Linked DNA regions of Homo sapiens. The protein of the gene in region 1 purifies or fractionates together with the protein of each later gene. This does not show direct contact. Each region holds a gene or a part of one and is shown in the gene's direction. Other genes may lie near its edges.

The links. Proteins that work in one complex are often made in the same cells at the same time.
Region 2: the proteins of CACNG1 (region 1) and IGSF3 purify together in Homo sapiens (affinity purification with mass spectrometry; one large-scale study listed by BioGRID and IntAct). This does not show direct contact.
Region 3: the proteins of CACNG1 (region 1) and XPO4 purify together in Homo sapiens (affinity purification with mass spectrometry; one large-scale study listed by BioGRID and IntAct). This does not show direct contact.
Region 4: the proteins of CACNG1 (region 1) and GPAT3 purify together in Homo sapiens (affinity purification with mass spectrometry; one large-scale study listed by BioGRID and IntAct). This does not show direct contact.

What each region holds. Positions count from the first base shown.
Region 1 is NC_000017.11:67,050,310-67,055,147, forward strand, and holds part of CACNG1 (voltage-dependent calcium channel gamma-1 subunit), read left to right. Parts: intron 1-3,686; coding exon 3,687-3,761; intron 3,762-4,793; coding exon 4,794-4,838. UniProt on the Homo sapiens protein: Regulatory subunit of the voltage-gated calcium channel that gives rise to L-type calcium currents in skeletal muscle. Regulates channel inactivation kinetics.
Region 2 is NC_000001.11:116,604,531-116,609,368, reverse strand, and holds part of IGSF3 (immunoglobulin superfamily member 3 isoform 2 precursor), read left to right. Parts: intron 1-1,037; coding exon 1,038-1,427; intron 1,428-2,817; coding exon of another isoform or gene 2,818-2,877; intron 2,878-4,838.
Region 3 is NC_000013.11:20,794,044-20,798,881, reverse strand, and holds part of XPO4 (exportin-4), read left to right. Parts: intron 1-1,824; coding exon 1,825-2,118; intron 2,119-2,625; coding exon 2,626-2,806; intron 2,807-4,838. UniProt on the Homo sapiens protein: Mediates the nuclear export of proteins (cargos), such as EIF5A, SMAD3 and isoform M2 of PKM (PKM2). In the nucleus binds cooperatively to its cargo and to the GTPase Ran in its active GTP-bound form.
Region 4 is NC_000004.12:83,601,473-83,607,078, forward strand, and holds the end of GPAT3 (glycerol-3-phosphate acyltransferase 3), read left to right. Parts: intron 1-3,195; coding exon 3,196-3,295; 3' UTR 3,296-4,403; downstream 4,404-5,606. UniProt on the Homo sapiens protein: Converts glycerol-3-phosphate to 1-acyl-sn-glycerol-3-phosphate (lysophosphatidic acid or LPA) by incorporating an acyl moiety at the sn-1 position of the glycerol backbone.

The sequences.
Region 1 (4,838 bases):
TCCCATGGAAGAGCAGTGCTCTGAAGCTCTAGGGTCAGGTCTTGGAGATTTCCAGCCCATTTTATAAAATTCTTCAATCAGAGATGTGGAAGGAGACACAGCCCAGAGAAACCACTGTTGGGAGCTGATAGAACTTCTTTTACCAAAAGGCTAAAAACAACACTGACATCAATGCAAGTTAGAGGCTTCCTTGCACCCCTAAAGTACCAGTTTCTTTGGTTTTGGACAAATCCACAAAGTATCTTTGAATATATGAAAGTCTCCATGGACAGTCACTTGGCACACTGATACATTCTCAGTGATAACCCAAGGCATCCACTAATCCTGCCAGCTGTTCCAACTATCAAAGAAAGATCCCTATTAACTCAAGTTCAGCTTGGAGCTAAATGTGGCTTCTGCTCTAATTCTTTGAAACTGGCACACTACACATGGTTCTGCACAGTTACTGATGCCCTTAACCAGAACACTGGGTTAGCCAGACTATTCCATCCCCCAGTCAAGTCTGAGAGCTGAGTTCACCATATTTTTAATAAATAACCCATTTAATATTTTTAAACCGCTGAGTCTTACAGAAATAAGGAGATTAAAATCAGCATAAGCCATCTGCAGAGACAAAGGAGAATGGCACGACCTCAGAGTTCCTAACACCCCAGATCATCATCCTGGCATTGGAATCTTTGCTGACTTAGTCGGAAGCAAAGCTGCAATCCCTGAGCTTTGTGTAAGTGTGATGGAAGCCAGGGCAGCGGGGCAGAGAGGGGCATCCCAGAGGCAGAGGCAGGAAGACTGAGAGTCTGCACAGGACCGTCACGGTCCCTCTCCTCTTGACCCATGACTAAGATGGGTCCACCTCGGATGTCCTTCCTCTTTACGTTGCCCTGGATGCTCAGTTTCCCAAATAATATCCACCTAGACCCAGGAACAGGGCAGGGAGGGAAGGGGCTCATAGTAGGGTCTGTCCATCTGAACAGGACCCTGCACCCTCTTGAGTAACATGGGCAGATGCCTGGCCTGATTTGTCCTAAATGAGGCCTGGGTCTGACGTGCCCCCACCCCTACAGGGGCCATTAGAGACCATGAAAGGGTTTATGGTCTCCAATGGGCAGCCACATAGCCCAGGAGTGGATGTTTCTCTCAGGTTCAGGGCAGGAGACACCGGTCTTTTTCACATGCTAAGCCCAAGAAAGGGGAGAGGTCAGCCCATCAGTCCTCAGGCCCCCAGTTCAGCCATGTAAGAGTGAAGCTGAGGCTTCCTGTTACCCTGAGAAGGAATCCTACCCACTGGAGGCCCCCTCCCTCCATTTGAGGACACTTAATGGAGAAGAGGGAGGAGGAACACTGTACCTGGACCACCAAAAGAAAAGCATCCCCCCAGAAGCTCACAACCTGGCTCCTGCAGACACGTAGCCTACCCCTGTGTCTGAGTTAAGATCATTTCTATCCAAGCAGCCAGCAGCCAGGCGGAGCCTGGCGTTTATCTGGTGGGGATTTGGTGAGCCAAATGCTACCTGTGTGAGAGTCACCTCAGCAACCCACCAGGTGCAAACAGCTGTGCCCCCAGCAAGGCACTCCATGGCCCTCATCTCAGGGCCCTCCGCTGGGAAGGATTTTAACTTATGGCTTTTGAGCAGTCAGGGAGGCAGCTGACCATGAAATACACTTGAATTCAGTCAATTCTGACAACTGAAATTGGCCCTTCAAGAATGAAACAGAAACAGAAATGTTTCTTTGTCCAGAGGGAGACACATGGAGACTTATGACATAGCATGGGCCATTTTGAAGCAGTGATTCGAGAGATCTACAGCCAATAATCTAACAAATAGAAGAGATCTGCATTATGCTTTAAAATAGCACCGGATGCCCAGAGAGAATAGCAGAGCACCAATTCTGACATCACCACCAGCAGTCAGACACCCCAGGTAACGCGGTTCAAAAGGAAAGTGATTTAAATATAGAAGCACACAGAGAAGGCTGTTTATGCCAGGAATGGGTACTGCTGCTAAACCAGATCCCATCTCCAGGGGTCATTTGCTTCCTCAACCTCAGGAGAGGCAGCAGCCCTGGCTCTGGGGGGAAGGAGGGGCATGGTATGAGACCACAGGCTTAAGGTGCAAGAAGAATGATTTAGGTCCGGTTAAAGAAAGTCTTCATCCCAAAGAAAAGCCTTGGTATCACTGCAGGTACATTTCCAGAAAGAACTAGGCATCAACCGCCTTATGAGCATCTAAATGAAGCCTGGAAGTGAAGAAATGAATTGGCAAACTAGACACCATCTCAACTAGAGAAAGAGATGTTTTTCTATTTAAGGGTCACTGATCCACAGGAAAAGAAATCAATGAAGGGCCTCCACAAATAAAAAGCAAACTAATTTAGTTTTGGAAGGAAACATAATATAAAATAACCCATTCATCCACTTCCTAAATCAAGAGCAAAGAAGATAAACCGTATTTAGCAAGAAATAAGACTGTGCTTTTTTTTTTTTTGAGACAGAGTCCCACTCTGTCACCCAGGCTGGAGTGCAGTGACACGACCTCAGCTCACTGCAACCTCTGCCTCCTGGGTTGAAGCAATTCTCCTGCCTCAGCCTTCTAAAGTGCTGGGATTACAGGTGTGAGCCACCACGCCCGGCCTGTGCTTTGATTTTATAGTATACCTAGCTATGAGAGAGAGACTGAAAGAGAAAAATGGAAATGAAATTATATTTTAAATCAGCATGAATTTCCTTGTGCTGAGCCCCTCCCCTCTCCCTCATCAAATTCAGATTTGCGTTCCTACTGCCCACAGACTTTCCATAGCTTTTATGACAATTATCAGGTGGGCCAAGCGGCTTTGTGGGGGCAGGTCTCATCTGGGCTGTCTCGCAAAGACCAGGGACCCAGTGAAACCACATGATGGTCACATTCAGCCCTCGTAGGGGTTCCATCTGCATCCAGGCCATCCCAATGGCCACTCGGAAAAAGCCCTTTGCAGGGCATTTTAAGGGGCCTGGAGCAGGGTTCCCATCCTGGCTGCACATCAGGCTCTCCCAGAAAGCTTTTGAAAAACACTGTTTCCCAGGTCCCACCAATGAACCAGGGTGTGCCTGGATTCTGATGAGAAACACAGTCCCAGGTTTGGGGTTGATCCAGGGTTTCTCAACCTTGACACTCTTGATATTTTGGCCTGGATCATTCCATGTTGGGAGGACCTGTCCTGTGTGTCTTGGGATGTTCAGCAACGTCTGTGGCCTCTACCGGCTGGGTGCCAGGTGTACCCCTCTCACCACCACCATAACCCCAGGCATCGCCAAGTGTCCCCTGGGGGGGCAGAATCGGCCCCAACAGAGACTGCTGTTTGGTTCTTTGTTGATTGTGCACCCTGCACACCCTGAAAAATGGCTTGAGCCTGGGCCTCGGTTACCCTGTCTGCCTAATGGGGTGCAGAACCCACAGGCCGTCTGCCCTGCAGACTCATCCAGCCTCAGCTCCCTGAAGACCTCCCAGCCCTGCAGGCAACCTCATTATCCCACTGAGATGTTGTTCTAAGGGTCAAAGACAGATGTTTCAGCCCAGATTAAGGATCTGGGGAGAAGAGAGGCTGCCAGAGCCCCCTGCATGCCGAGCAGAATGACACCACGCTCTCTGCCAGGCCTCTGTCCTTGCTACGGGTTGCTCCCCTCAACTCACAGTCTGTCTCCTCCTTTGCAGAGAAGAACTGTTCCTACTTCAGGCATTTTAACCCCGGCGAGAGCTCGGAGATCTTCGAATTCACCACTCAGAAGGGTGAGCCTGGGTGGAAAGGGGTCTGGGGTGACAAGAGGGGACTTCTGTGTTGTGCACCACTGGGCCAGAAAGTCATTGGCAAAAGCACTGACTTCCTCACGCCTGATGAGAAGAAGCCTGTGGTGCATTTGAACAACAGCCTTGTCAGCTCCCCGCTCCGGAGGCCCCAGGCAGCCGCCTTCCATCTCCAGGGCCCGGAGCTTCCACACCTCGGGGCCAGGGAGCGTTTGCAGAAGCAGCACCTCCTGGTAGGCCCCTACACAAGGGCAGCTGTTGTGACGGGAGGTGTGGATGTGGAACAAATGCTCAGAAGCCCCGTGGTGGCTCTTGGTGGCATGTGATAGTTAGAGTCTGCAGGGACAGTCTGAGTCCCTCCCTGGCCTAGAAATCCCTCCCTGAGTACCAGGAGGGTGCGGTGGGCTCTGGGAGCTTTTCAGGATCCGCAGAGCTCAGACGCACACCCATTGTCGGGAGTACAGACCCGTGCCTGCCTGCGCCCAGACAGCTGCACACAGGGTGAGTGGGCAGACACACAGACACACACTGACACACACAGACACACACAACACAGATACACACACACGACACACACAAGACACAGACGCACAGAGACACTGACACACACGCATGATGACACACAAAATGACACACAGTGACACAGACACACACTGATACACATGCATGATGACACACAAAATGACACACAGTGACACACACAGACACACACTGACACACACGTACAATGACACAGACACAGAGACACACACTGACACACACGTACAATGACAGACACAGAGACACACACTGACACATATGCATGACACACAATGACACACACAGACACTGACACACACACAGATACACACATACAATGACACACACAAGACAGACACAGAGACACACACTTGACACACACACAATGACACACACAGACACTGACACACACACTGTGGTGCATGGTGTGGTCCCTAACGAGCCATGACAAGAGCTCCCATGCTGAGGCCGCATGCTGGGTGTCCCTTGTGTTTGCAGAGTACAGCATCTCGGCAGCCGCCATCGCCATCTTCAGCCTTGGCT
Region 2 (4,838 bases), on another chromosome or scaffold:
AGGCTGAGGTGGGAGGATGGCTGGAGCCTGGGAAGTCGAGGCTGCAGTGAGCCACGATCATGCCACTACACTCCAGCCTGGGCAACAGAACGAGACCCTGTCACAGTAAATAAGTAAATAAATAAAAATTAAAAAAACACCTAGATCTTAGGAGGCTGCTTGGGTTTAGTAATCATTTCAGAGGCTGTCTGGCTTTCAGCAGAAGTAGGTACTTTTCCTACTAAAGTACCTACTAAGTACTTACTCAGTGGGAAAGTACCTACTAAGGTTTAACCAGGCGTGAGTACTTAGTAGGTACTTTCCCACTAAAGTAGGTACTTTCCTACTAAAGTAAGTACTTAGTAGGTACTTCACTGGGAAAGTACCTACTTCCATTGAAATCTGACTAGAGATTTGATCTGACAGGTGGTAAACTAGTGAACAGACATTAGTTTTTATTTTTTCTATGTAATTCTGTTAGGGTTTGTCATACCTACATCTTATTTCTAGTATTCACATGGCGGGGGGTAGAGAGGGAATTTTAATATAGTCATCTTTGAGCATTTGTTAGGATTGGGCCAGCACCTAGGCCACTCTGTAATTTTTTCCCACAGACCTCAGTGGGGTAAGTCTTACAATATCTGCTGAAAATGTTTATAATGCTGTTGCTTAAATAGAGTTCTGGGTGCATATATCAAGGCTAGATATTTGTAATCTACCATTTGAGTGATATTAGTAGCTTCTCACTGACCTGGGGGTCTCATCTAAGACATCTAAAGCTTCAGACTGAGCCCCATTGGTCTTAACTGGGGTAACAGTTTGCTTAGACCGTCTGGGCTGAAGTAGTTTTGAATTCTCTCTGTGATATTCAGGCGTTTCTCTGGACCTTAGATAACCTGGGTCTGAGTTGGATTTTACTCTCAAGCTAAGTGCTGTGGTCCTCCCCGCAGTTAGTATTGTAAAGAAGAGGAAGGATAGTGGGAATGTGCTAATGTGGTTTAGTTGGCTGGGGCCCTCATTCACCCAGGATGTGTCTCTTTTCTTACTTGTTCTCTCAGACAAAGAATTCACTGTTCGGCTGGAGACAGAGAAGCGGCTGCACACGGTGGGCGAGCCGGTGGAGTTCAGATGCATCCTGGAGGCTCAGAATGTTCCCGACCGTTACTTTGCTGTCTCCTGGGCCTTCAACAGCTCGCTCATCGCCACCATGGGTCCTAACGCTGTGCCTGTCCTCAACAGCGAATTTGCTCACCGGGAAGCCAGGGGACAGCTTAAGGTGGCCAAAGAGAGCGACAGTGTCTTTGTGCTGAAGATCTACCACCTCCGCCAGGAAGATAGCGGGAAATACAACTGCCGGGTGACTGAGCGAGAGAAAACCGTGACCGGGGAATTCATTGATAAGGAGAGCAAGCGTCCCAAGAACATCCCCATCATAGTCCTCCCCCTCAGTAAGTAGAGAGATGTGCTGCTTTCTTCTCCTTTGGCTCAGCATCATTTAGGAGAGGTAGGGGGAGAGAGAATAGCGTGGTGAAGGTGAGGGGAGGCAGATGGAACCCTCGAGGTTAATGCAGAGCTGGGGGAAAAACCATTGAGCCTCTCTTCCCTGTTGTAGCCCACCTGCATACATGTAGCAGGCTCCCCATAGCAGAGGATCAGGATCAGGGGTGTCCAGAATCAGGGCAGTCTAGGGCTGGGCATAGGCCTATCTGATTGCTAGCAGCCCTGTGCATACACAAGCAGTGCCAGCTCAGCTTGGAGGGAAACCAGGAATCCCAGAAAGCTGTTTGCTCTTGTGTGGGAATCAAGTCCCAGAAGAAGTGGGTAGATGCCTGCCTTGAAATCTCACTTAAGGAGAGTTGGTCTTTTATGGGAGGATTTTAAATCATAAAGTGCATTATTAAGGATTTGCCATCTGGGTTTTTCAGGTATAAAGGCTGGCATTTCCCTAAATGGCTTTTCCCTGTTGAAATTGTGTTTCTAAAAGTCGGTGGATGGGACCTCTCACATCTTCCTGGAGCATAGCCTTTTAAGCTTAGCTGATTTCTGAGGCTGCCTCAGTGGGCTCCCCAGCCTTCATGTAGACTGGCCTTGTGTGGGTGGGTAGTGGCCATTGCTAGGGATTCCAGAAACTACTGGTGTTTGCTTGTGTTGTGTTTAAACATTCATAGTATCAAGATATTCTTATTAATCTCATTCTCCCATAGTTCTGTTTTTAGTAAAGAGAATAAAAACCTATAATGCTCTGATTTTAAACAAGTGGTAAAGTTTTAAGACTAACCTTTAACCTTGTCTCAGCTGCTCAAACTATTCTTTCTCTGAGCCTTGTAATAATTTCCTTTACTTTTTATTTATATGTTTTAATATTTAAAATATTTCTCTTCAAGTGTGATATTTCTCTTCAAGTAGCCACAGCGGTCCTCTTGTCAGTCTTTTCTTCTTTTCTCATCAACTGGATTATTTTCTTTTTATGCTTATTATTATTTTGTTAAAAACCATGCACACACATACCTAATTATCTTGAAATTCTTTTGTTTCTTAGCTTTTTCCGCCCTGCAATGCCTAGCATGGTGCTTTGCATAGAGTAGGTGCTCGCTGAATACTGTACAACTGAAATTATTGAATTGAATGCCCACTGTCTTTACTATTTTCCTGTCAGTCTGTGCTTGCCTTAACCACGGACTCTACTTTTAAATCTGCAACTAATTCCTCATTGTTTTCTAAGGATCAAGTGAAGGGCAGCCACGCTGTTTACTTCCTATATTTTTTGTACTAAGATTTCCCCCAACCCCTTCTGAGAACTTGTTTGATGATCTGTGGCCTGCTATATTGCTTTTCCAGCAGATAACTGGGTAGTTAAAGTCCCCCAGCACCACCAGCTCCTGTCCCAAGGCCACTTGGGTAAGTCTGCCGAAGAACAACAACAATCACATCGGTAATGGTGACAATGCCTTGGATTTTAATGGCGCTTTTCCTCCTAAGAGACCAAAGTGCTTCTGCATATATCATCTCCTTCTCCGCTCCCACCTCTCAAATCCTCGTAGAGGCCAATATGATATCCATCTAATGAATGAAGAAATCAGAGCACCACACAGGAAGTGACAGAGCTGATTGTTCAGTTAGTGGTTGAGCTTGCATTGCATTAGGAAATATTTGCTTCTAACTCCACACCCACCGCCCTGCGCTTAGCCTGTGCTACACCGTCAACTTCCTGATTTGAAATTTCATTTGTGAATGTGTACTCAGATTTTTATTAGTTCTGTCCTAGTTTTCACTTAATCCAGAGAGTTTAAAATTGTCGGCTGCCTTTTCTCAGGCCTGGAAATTCTTGTAAATAGTGTTAGTGGGCAGTGAGGCACCAGGTCTGTAGTTGCCTTTGCCTCAGCTGCTATAATAAAATAGCATTTCTTCTTGTAGCCCCACATTCTAACTATGTGGGTTTCCAGGCTTGCTCAAGCAACAGACACCACCAAACAGTAGCCCTTTCAATAAATGAGCCAGGACTTGGATAAGCGTCCACTGGGATGACAGTAGGGGATGAGAGTGAGGTCCTGCAAGTCATTCTTCTGCTTAATACAAGTGAAAGGATTTTCTTCCTTGATGCTGCAGTTGCCCTTTTAATCCCTTATTTTGAATTGATAACAGTGGGGATGAGTCTTTAATCTAAAGAGGAATATTGTTGTTATTAATGATGATGAAAAATAAGTACCTCATCTGATCCTCTCAATGTCATGCCCTAAGAAGTAGGCACTATTAGTATCTCCATTTTGCACATGAGAAATTGGAGCTTTGGTAGGTTAAGGAAGAACCACAGGATTACAGAGTTAGGAAGTCTCCAAATCCATCCCCTTAACCATTAGTGCTATAGATGGTGACTGTTCAGGAGCCTGATCATCTCTATGAATCATCCTGGTATGAGTCCTGGGGGAGGTTGCCCTCCTAGGAAAATTGCTATTCCCTGCCCCATCCAGACCTTTTATTTTTCACATAAAACAAGCAAATCCAGAATGGATAGCAGGCATCCTCACTATAATAAGAGCTACATGTGGAGGCTCAGTGCTCGTCTTTGTTTCTGCTTGTTGGGGAAATAAAGGAGAGAAAAGATTTGATTCAAATGCATTGTTATGTGTATGTGTGTGTTTTCTCTTGGTAATTGGGTGTGCCTCTTAAAATCTGGGATTTGATTTAATTAATTGGTTTAAAATTATTGCATGTATTTAATGTGGGTGGTACCCAAAAATTGGAGCCAAATTAGTTACTTTGTGTTCTTTAATACTTACAGACCTTCTGAACTCAATATAGATAATTATACAAAATACTACATGTATAATTAAAACATATTAGGCTATCTGTGATGTTTATAAAAACAAAGAGTTATGTGGAATAGTAAAATTAATCATGATCATGATGACCAGTTTTTGAAAACCTACTATGTGTTAGGTGAATCTATATGCATCATCTCATTTACTTTTTAATATTTAAAGAATTCTACAGTTAAAGGTGGCTCTCTACCTGTCTTACAGAAGAAGAGGCTGAGGCATGTCGAGTTTAAATAATTTGATTGAGTGAATTCAGATAGTTAAGTGAGCAGCAGAGGCTAGATGAGACAGGGAAGGGAGTGGAATCCTTATCCCAAACTTTTGATTGGCCAAATGTTTCTAGAAAGAGAGCAAAGGAGCCCCAGGGCTGACTGGACAGGCGGGAGAGTGGTGGATGACGAGCTGCTGGCTTTGTTTTGTTCCTGTGTGTTAATGAAAGAATGAAAGCCCGCTCCTCACACACTCTGCAAAACTAGACCATCTGTGCTCCCTTATTACCCACACTTAAGCACACGTTATCGTCCCAATACTTACTGTTGGTTT
Region 3 (4,838 bases), on another chromosome or scaffold:
ACCCAGCTAATTTTTGTTTTTTTTAGTAGAGACGGGCTTTTGCCATGTTGGCCAGGCTGGTCTCGAACTCCTGGCCTCAAGCAATCTGCCCGCCTTGGCCTCCCAAAGTGCTGGGATTACAGATGTGACCAGCCACTGTGCCCGGCCCAGTCATAGCTTTTCTGATATTTTTTCTCCTAATGAATGGGTTGAAGCTTCTTATTTTACAAATGTTGTCTTATAATTTTTCTGTACCTGCCTGTGTGTGATGACATTGAATATTATCAAGTGTTCTGCATTTTAGGCACATTTTTCACAACTCAGTCGAGAGCATGGACTGGCTTATTAAATTTTCATTAGGGATCAGGGAAATATTCTCCTGTCTTGAATAAGATGCAGATTAACCATGATATTCATTTCCTAGGGCTGCTCTAACAAAATACCACAACAGAAATTTGTTTTCTCCTACTTCTGGAGGCTAGAAGTCCAAGCTATAAGGTGTCCATGGGATTTGTTCTTTCTGAAGGCTATGAGGGAAAATCTGTAGCCTCTGGTAGCTTGCTGGCAGTCTTTGGCATTCCTTGATTTGTAAACGCATCACCCTGATCCCTGCCTTCATCTTCACATGCTCCCCCTGTGTGTGTCTGCATCCACACTTCCCCTTTCTATATCAGTTATATTGAACTAGGGGCCCACCCTATTCCGGTATGACCTCATCTGAACTAATTACATCTATGACAACCCTATTTTCTTTTTTTTTGAGACGGAGTCTTGCTCTGTCACTCAGGCTGGAGTGCAGTGGTGTGATCTTGGCTCACTGCAACCTCCACCTCCTGGGTCAAGCGACTCTCCTGTCTCAGCCTCCTAAGTAGGTGGGATTACAGGTGCGCACCACCATGCCTGGCTAATTTTTGTATTTTTAGTAGAGACGGGGTTTTGCCATGTTGGCCAGGCTGGTCTCCTGACCTCAAGTGATCCGCCCACCTCAGCCTTCCAAAACGTTGGGATTACAGGTGTGAGCCACTGCATCCGGCCAACTCTATTATCAAATAAGTTCATATCCTGGGGTTTGGATTTCCACATATGAGTTTTTGAGGAACACAGTTTGACCCATAACAACAACCATGGGCACATTATTTAATAGGCTTTAAATCAAGGGCCAAGAGTTGCCAGTGTGTGTAGGTTGCCAGCCTGCAGTCCTTGTCTAGAGGGCCCTTAGTGTTTGAGAAGGGGCACAGTAATGGAATTAGGCAGTTGTTTGTGACTTCAAATCCAGGGGAAACCAGACTGACTAAGTATTTTTATTTTAAACAATTGTATTATCATATGGACAACTTAAAGTCGAATTAAGATACTGTCCTCTTGAATATGAGTACTCTTATATACAGGGCAGGACTGATTATCTGAAGTTACGTTCTGTGCCAAGAGGAATTAGGTAAAGGAAAAAGGAAAAAAACAGACAAGAACTTTGAATTGGGCTTCACTCTGTAGAGGTCGGCAAGCTGCAGCCCATGGGCCAAATGTGGCTTACTGTCTGATTTTGTAAACAAAGTTTTTTTTCCTTTTTGACTCATTACTTGGAAAGAGATGGAGGGAAATGGCAGAATTCTTTGAATGGCAGGGAGACAGTTATGTCCCATGCTTTGGGTGTTCTGGCTTTACATGAGCGGAAAGTTAGGATGACCCTCAAAATGGGGAGTGTAAAGTCTGGTTTAGATATTCTTTGTTATGTGCTTGTCCTGCCTCCAACAATTAGAAATGTTTTGGAAAGTGAATATGTATCCAAGCAGAGGAAATAAAGCATGAGAACTGAGCTTTAAGAAAATTCCTGGTTTATTTTTATAGGTTCTTCAGCCACTTCAGCAGCGATTCTTAAGAGTGATAAACCAAGAAAACTTCCAGCAGATGTGTCAGCAAGAGGAAGTCAAGCAGGAAATCACTGCCACACTAGAGGCCCTGTGTGGCATTGCTGAGGCTACCCAGATTGACAACGTAGCAATCCTGTTTAATTTTTTAATGGACTTCCTTACCAATTGCATTGGATTGATGGAAGTTTACAAGAATACCCCAGAGACTGTCAATCTCATTATAGAAGTTTTTGTTGAAGTTGCACATAAACAGATATGCTATCTTGGAGAGGTAAGCACTTTCTAATTTTATCCCCTCAGGATTAAAACTCTTTGAAGCTGTAATAAAATAATAGATCTTTGCTTAAAATTTGATTAGTATTATCTTAAATAATATTTTTATTCCTTCAAAAGATTTTTAAAAAAGATTTTTGAAAAGAACTTATAATTTAGAGAAAGTCATGTTGAATGAATGTAAATTTTTTTTTTAATTTCTTCTAAAAGGAAACAGGATACATATACAGAACGTTCAGATTTGTTACATAGGTATATGTATGCCATGGTGGTTTGCTGCACCTGAATATAAATTCTTGTCCTAAAATTTTGTTAGAAAAGGGGTAAAATTAAAAAAAATATACTCTTAATATATGCTTTCTAGAAATTATTGTTTTAATGTAGTTTAAAGCAAGAATTATTGCTACTGTTGGAATTCGGAGTTAATTTATATAGATTATATTTTAAAATTTTTTTAATGTCAGTGTACCAAGTAGCATAATTTGTGCATTTTTTTTTTTTTCAGTCCAAAGCTATGAACTTATATGAAGCCTGCCTTACTTTGTTGCAAGTGTATTCTAAGAATAATTTAGGGCGGCAAAGAATAGATGTTACAGCAGAAGAAGAGCAATACCAAGACCTGCTTCTCATTATGGAACTTCTTACTAACCTGCTGTCAAAAGAATTCATAGATTTCAGTGATACAGGTAAAATGTAACGTGATGGTTTTTAAACTTTGTTGTTATCCTCCTTTTTATTAAATCAAAGGATTGTTTTCTGTAAGAGACATCTCATGAGGAAATTCAATTTATGGAATAAATGAAAGAAGATCTTTGTGGTCAAAGTGAGGGTGAGGACCAGTGGCCCTCCTGCTTGCCTTTCCTCTTGTAAGAATAATAGAAATAGTATCTCTCATTCATTGAGATCTTACTAAATGCCATGCACTGTTCTTACCTCTCACAATGGTATGAAGTCAATCCCATTGTTATTCTCACTTTATAGATGAGGAAACAGAAGCACAGAGAGCTTAAGTCACTTGGCCACAGATACTTAGCCAGGACTGGGATTCAAATCCCAGCCTGTGACTCCAGATGCCAGTCTCTTCAGAGTTACACTTCCTGACTAATCACTTCTCCATGTTCCTCACGGTGGCCACCCCAGAAACCCTAGCACTTTCCAGAGTGTGGCTTGGAAAGCCCTGTTGGTGTAGGAAGCACTCTCTCTGGAGTTAACAGCCCACACTTTGAAGACCTAGCCTAGTGTCTCACCTACAGTATGATGTGAGGGGAGTTGATTAGCCTACCTGTGTCTTTACTAGCTGGTCAAATGGGTATGATAATAAATACCTTTCAGTGTGTTTGAAGGATCAGCTGTAAAGTGTCTTTGGTGCCTAGCATTGTGTCTGACAATCAGTAGGTAAAAGATAGTTGCTGTTACAGGCAAGAACCTGATCAGTAATTTAAACCTCATATATGTGTATAGTTTTCAGTGCTGTAGAGTTCACTCCCCTCCTATCTCACTGCCAACCTTGACTTCAAACAAAATGGATCCTGTTTCATGACAGAAAAATGAATCATATCTAGCCTCTCCTATTATATGTTGTGCAGACACGTGTGGTAGTGGACATTTTTGGCTTCTTCCTTGTAAGATTCTCTTTCTAAGTTGGGTGCTATAATATCCACTTGACTTATTTATCCCAATCCTTGAGATTGTTCTGTTTCCTTAATTTTTTCGTATTCCTTATTCACTGGACCATGTCTTTTTTTTTTTTTTTTAAATTCTTGGGCAACGGTTTTTCCAATATCTGCCCTGAGCTAGGTACCATCAACTTCACAGTGTAGAAGGTTTACTCTTTATTTTTTTTGCAGTTAACTAGGGGTACCAAGGTGAGATAGTCTGAAAAGCACTGTACAAATTCACTTTTCCTCAGTGAATTCTTTCTGGTCTGTTTTTAGGCCCAGCCTTTCACCCAAGTTTTCTAACTTTCTTCAGGTCAGTTCTGCTTAATCCAGGAGTTCTTAACTTTTTCTTTCTTTCCTTGTTGTTGTTTGAGAGGCAGGGTCTCCCTCTGTCATCCAGGCTAGAGTGCAGTCGCATGGTCACAGCTCTGTGCAGCCTCAACCTCAGGCTTAAACTATTCTCCCACCTTAACCTCCCAGAGTGCTGGGATTACAGGTGTGAGCCACTGTGCCCAGCATTCTTAACCTCTTACTAATACAGTATTAGTTGGTTCATGGACTCCTGGAAACTCTTCTATACATTTTCCAGGTGTGTCAGGAACCCAGGTTAAGAATCTTGTCCCCAGAGGAATCTGTAACTAAATGTTAGGACCCAGAGCTAAAACATGTATATGTTTAGATGATTTACTGTCATGATTACTCTGTGTATCATAAATCAGCTCATTGTTTCAATTTTTTCATTTCTAGAAATAGTATCATCATTTTCTTGGATTCTTATTCTATGCCCCCACTCAGGCCCCATCGCAGACCTACTAACTCTAGAAATCTATATTTTGACTAAGTTTCCTAGTTGTTTCTGACATACTACCAGATTTGTCTTATTTTCAGAATAATTTTCCTAAAATAGTGATTCCATCGTGTTTCCTACCTACTTAAGTACTACAGTAGATCCCAGCGCTGGGCAGCGTTAATAAGAGAAAGGAGAAGGGACAGTCCACATTTCTAGAATATTCTATAATCCTATCAAAAAAGGAAGGATTATAATAGAAGTAAACATTTA
Region 4 (5,606 bases), on another chromosome or scaffold:
CCTGGTGCAGTGGCTCATGCCTGTAATCCCAGCACTTTGGGAGGCTGAGGCAGGTAGATCACCTGAGTTTAAGAGTTCGAGACCAGCCTGGGCAACATGGCGAAACCCTGTCTCTACAAAAAGAATACAAAAATTAGCTGGGCGCCATGGCGCACACCTGTAGTCCCAGCTACTCGGGAGGCTGAGGCCTGAGAATCCTTGAACCTAGGAGGTCGAGGCTGCAGTTAGCTGAGATCGTGCCACTGCACAGCAGCCTGGGTGACAGAGCGAGACCCTGTCTCAAATAAATAAATAAACAAATAAATAAAATTTGTTATGCTAATTAACAAAGCTTGAGAAATCGATGGGCAATAAAGATAAAGATAGCTGAAGCCATTAGTGGCATCTCTGAAAGGCGGCCTTCTGATTAAATGCTAGCTGACCACCCTGGAGTAAGAGTTCTTGACTAACAAGGTGTATGACTTGAGTTCCATACATCCTGGAGTATGAAACTGACTAGTCCTAAGGCATAGGTTAAGACTAAACATTTGTATTACACTGTCTACATTGGAATATGTTAAACTAAATGACAGAATCATAGCATCACAAAACTATATAAAACGACCTTGGTCCACAGATGTCCTATAACCCATGGTCATACGTGCAACTGGGTTCCTTTTCCTTATTTAAAACTCTTTACTCACTCTTTATCTTACCTGACACTCAGCCCTCCTGCTTCTATCCTGAAGTCAGTGTCTGTAGTCTCAGACACAGGAAGGGAAGAAAGCCTTGAGAGACAAGAACAACCTAGGGGAGTCAGCCAAGTACAGACTCTCCATCAGAGTGGCTGAACTAAATCCATCAAAAATGATCCTCAGAATTGTCCAGTGTCCTTTTTTCAGGCCATATGCAATTGTATAATAAAATTACTTTTAATTACCTAGCCTCTTAAAAAAAAGAAAGTGGCCTCATTGCCTTTCTAGATTTATTTGTCATGTACCTATTGGTTATGAATTAACATATCTAGATTGTTTTTTCATAGATTGAGTGAAAATATAATTTTATGATCTTAAACTGGCTTTTATATATGGCTGCTCCCTCTCTTAAGAACTAAGACCTGCTGCCATTGCAAAGGGGAATTGGATAAAATTTTGAAGTCTCTAAGGGGTGGCAAATCACAGTTTAAGTGCTTAGAGCAGCATGAGGTTTACTGGGTGCTTGGGAAGGAGAATTGTACAAAATGATGTCAGATTGCTCAAGACTTACATTTTTGCCTGTTTTGGGCTTGGATCTTGTGAAAGGAGAAAGGCCTTTCTTATTTCTTTAGTTTCCTTAGTTCTCACTATTCAGAATTCAGGTAAGTGCTGTTAATAGAAGAAGCTCATTTGGATAAAAGAGGCTTATGTGGACAATTCTGTGGACCTAACAACAATTTATAATCTTGTTTCATGAAAACCTCCCACAACTGACCCACTGGATGATTTGTGGATCACAGTCTGTTTTTAAGTTGAGGACTTATTGCTGTGTCTTAGATTTGAGTCTAGAAGCCAGAACATTGCATTTGTCTCAAGCCGGTGTCTCTGTGGAGGTCAAGTTCTGTCCACATGGCATTGAGTTCACTGGCTAACCTACGATCATTCACCATCATCAGAAAGCATTTGGTAAACATGCATGCTTAACTGGGTTAAAATTAAACAGTCAGAGTATAAAGTAAGCAAGTTCTCAGCCCATGCTCTCCTAGCAGTTAAAATCTAAAACTTTAGATTAGGAGCCAGATAGTGACCTATGATAGTCCAAACTACTCCCAGCAACTCCAGTTTGTTGTTTCTTTATGTGTAGTCCAAAGAAGGAAAAGCATGCAGAGTTCTTATACCCAGGCAGGCACCCTGGAGAGAGTTCAAAGATTTACAGGCTCTGAATGAAGGAATGCTGCTTACATAGGCACTTCTGGTTGAATGCAACTTATGATTTTGTTATTTTATTCGGAATCTGTTTTGGAATATAAATGATTATAAATGCTGGAAATATAGTGCTTTGAATGAAAATACAACTTGTTAGACCGGGCACGGTGGCTCACGCCTGTAATCCCAGCACTTTGGGAGGCTGAGGCAGGCAGATCACCTGGGGTTGGGAGTTCGAGACCAGCCTGGCAAACATGGAAAAACCCTGTCTCTATTAAAAATACAAAATTAGCCGGGCCTGTTGGTGCATGCCTGTAATCCCAGCTACTCAGGAGGCTGAGACAGGAGAATCACTTGAACTCGGGAAGTGGAGGTTGCGGTGAGCCAAGATTGTGCCATTGCACTCCAGCCTGGACAACAAGAGCAAAACTCTGTCTCAAAAAAAAAAAAAAAAAAAAAAGAAAATATAACTTGTTAAACATAGATAGGGTTATATTTGAACAATGATTTATCTTTTTTGAATAATCATTTATCTTTAAGAAATTTACCCACACATATACAGTACCCTTACCATTTCTTCTGTGTATATTTTAAATTTTCCTGTGGTTTTCTAGTAAGACATAGGTAGACGAAAAACCAGTATTTTGTTTTCCTTAAGGAATAATATAGAGAAATAATCCTAGTTTTAATAATCCTTGTTTCAATCCAGTTTTTGTTTGTTTGTTTGTTTGTTTTTGAGACGAAGTTTTGCTCTTGTTGCCCAGGCTGGAGTGCAATGGCGTGATCTCGGCTCACTGCAACCTCCACCTCCCGGGTTCAAGCGATTCTCCTGCCTCAGCCTTCCAAGTAGCTGGGATTATAGGCATACACCACCATGCCCAGCTAATTTTGTATTTTTAGTAGAGACAGGGTTTCACTATGTTGGCCAGGCTGGTCTCGAACTCCTGATCTCAGGTGATCCACCCACCTTGGCCTCCCAAAGTGCTGGGATTACAGATGTGAGCCACTGTGCCTGGCCAATCCAAATATTTAATACACCACCCCTTAACTTCTAAAGAAACTGAGTTGGGGATATTGTTACTTATTTTAACCAAACATCAGAGAGATTGTTCCTTCCTCAAAGTAATGTGTATTTGGCAAGTGGTAGGGCAGAAACTGAAACCTGGGTCTTCCTGTTTCCAAATCCAGTGTTCTTTCCCTTATTTCATCCCAGCTGCCTAAGCGTCATGGTATCATGCAGCATGTAATTATTAAGTTAACTCTTTTAAATCACCGCTGTAAAGTATCTTTTATGTATTTGTCTTTCTGTTTGCAGGGATGGAGGACTAAAGAGAGCAAAGGTGAAGGACATCTTTAAGGAAGAGCAGCAGAAAAATTACAGCAAGATGATTGTGGGCAATGGATCTCTCAGCTAAGAGGACGGATGACAGCCTTTAGATCTAGAACTAGCCCTTAGAAATGGAATGGCTTTTTTTGTTTTGTTTTGTTTTATTGTTTTGTTTTTATTATTGTTAATCTTTTCTACAGAATGATTGTCTCTACCTCTTTATGCCAGAGGCAGAACCTACAGGTGCCCTTTTTGGCTTTTGTTGTTGTTGTAACATTAGCCCCATGGATTGTAAGGTGGTTTACTGAGTTAAAACAGATTCTGCTTTTGTAAAATGATGGCATCACTGTGGACTGAATGAAATATTTGTATAGAAAAAAGTGCTTGAAAAGTGTGTTTGGAACTCATCGATAGGGTAATTCTCCAAAAATGCCCAAACTCTTTTTCTGTAATTAGCCTTGCCACTTTCTTCAGTCACTTAAATGGTGAGATTACACATCAGTGCAAGATGACCATTATGGTTATGGTCTACTGCAAGGTTGAAAGGAAAAATGGAGGATTGTATTTAGGAAAAGGGACAACTTTGTGGCCACCTGCTCTGAAAGTCAAAAGGAAATGTAAATTAGTGTCATTAGTGTGTTGGAAGAGAAATACTATTCAGTAAGCTTCGCCAAAGAAAAGTGAGTCAAAGTTAATGTGTGTGCGCATTTATATGTAGGCAGCTCGTAGACCACATTTTAACCAGCAACTGGTAACAAAGAGCTTAGTTTTCCTTGTTTGAATGCTGTAGATCTGTACCTAGTACCCCTCCCATCTACTGATTTGTTTGTTTTTGTAACCAAACACATTTTCAGATAGAAGGAGCCTTAAAAAAAAAAAATCACATTGAGTAACTTCAGTATGAATGAATGAGAGTGTGTGGAGCTACCCCTCACCCTCCACCCCTTTGTGCTTTTTATTCCCGAATTTTCCCAGTCTCTTAAACAGAAAAATGACTGATATAATTATCTTTTGGAAACTGAGCCTTAATTTTTTTTAGAGGGGGAAATAAGTTTTCCCCAACTCACACAGCATAAGCAATGTTTGACAGCAATATAATGCCGTTGTAAACTACTGAGAGTATTGTATCTGTTCTGGTAACCATGTACAGAATGTGAAACTGTCTTATGAATATAAATAAATTCTATATTTCTAAATGTGTGTTGCATTATTCCCCCTTCCCTTCCCCCCTTTTCTGGTTTTGAGTAAGTTAAATTCTTTCCTATTACAAACAAGGGTTGTTTGTTTTTCATTTCAGTGACATAGTTAGATTTTATTGGACTGGAACAAATGGGAAACAAGAACATGAGCCACTGATTCTCCCCCTCCCCTCCCGCCGCTTAAATCTTTTTTTCAGTCTAGTCATTTGGACTCTGGCCCTGTGAACTCCACCTTGAGCAATGTCACAGACTACAGTTATTTTGCAGGTGAATTAAGGCAATTATATCTAACTATCTAGGTAGGCCTGGCATAGCACTATCAGTATATACTCTTCTTATCTATCTAGCTAGTTGGATTTCATCCCAAAAGAAAACTTGCAAATAGGTTACTCTCATGGCCATCCACCTCTCTGTTCTCACTCTCCCCACTTTCCCTTTGTTGTTTGGTGAAATTTTGCCCCACAAACTCTATTAGGAGTGGTCTTGACTGAAAATTAGCAAATCCAAATATGTATGTTGGGTGACATTTTGTCTTAATTTTTTTCCTCAGAGAAAGGAGTGCCTTTTTTTTTTTGTAAATTCTATGTTAATTATGGCTTGAATTAACAAATCTATTTCATTAGCCCAATTCTCAGACAAGTGTATCTTTCCAAAAGCACTGTAAAAATAACAGTGCTATCATGTATTCACTAGATAACCTAATAGTGTCTCAATCTGAACTTTTGTCTTCTACAAGACTGATTTACACAACTAGGTTTCAGGTTGCTTGAGGAATTGCCATGTTGTTGAAACCATGTTTTTGGAAAGCTGATATTGCTCAGATTTAGTGTATGCTCCTTAGAGCTCCTTTTATGTTTGCTTTCACTAATATTATTCCATACCCACTTTAGAGATATTGTGTCCAGAGTTTAGTATTCCTGAGTCTTCCCTAATTGTAAGGCAATATGAAGGGAAGGCAGGATTTGGTAGAAAAATCTCATCAGATAAGTAAGACCTTTCATCGAACTCTTGCATACATTCATTAATTGAGCCTCGAGGTTGCCCTATTTTTATTTCAATTATTTGTCCTGCAGTCATATTTATAGACAGCAGGTTCTAGGAATGCCAAGGGTTTCTAAAATATGCCACATTCTGGGACTGGATGAGCAGCCATGTGTGAAACGGTAAATATACCCGGAGCGCAGGGGAAATAGTTTCAGA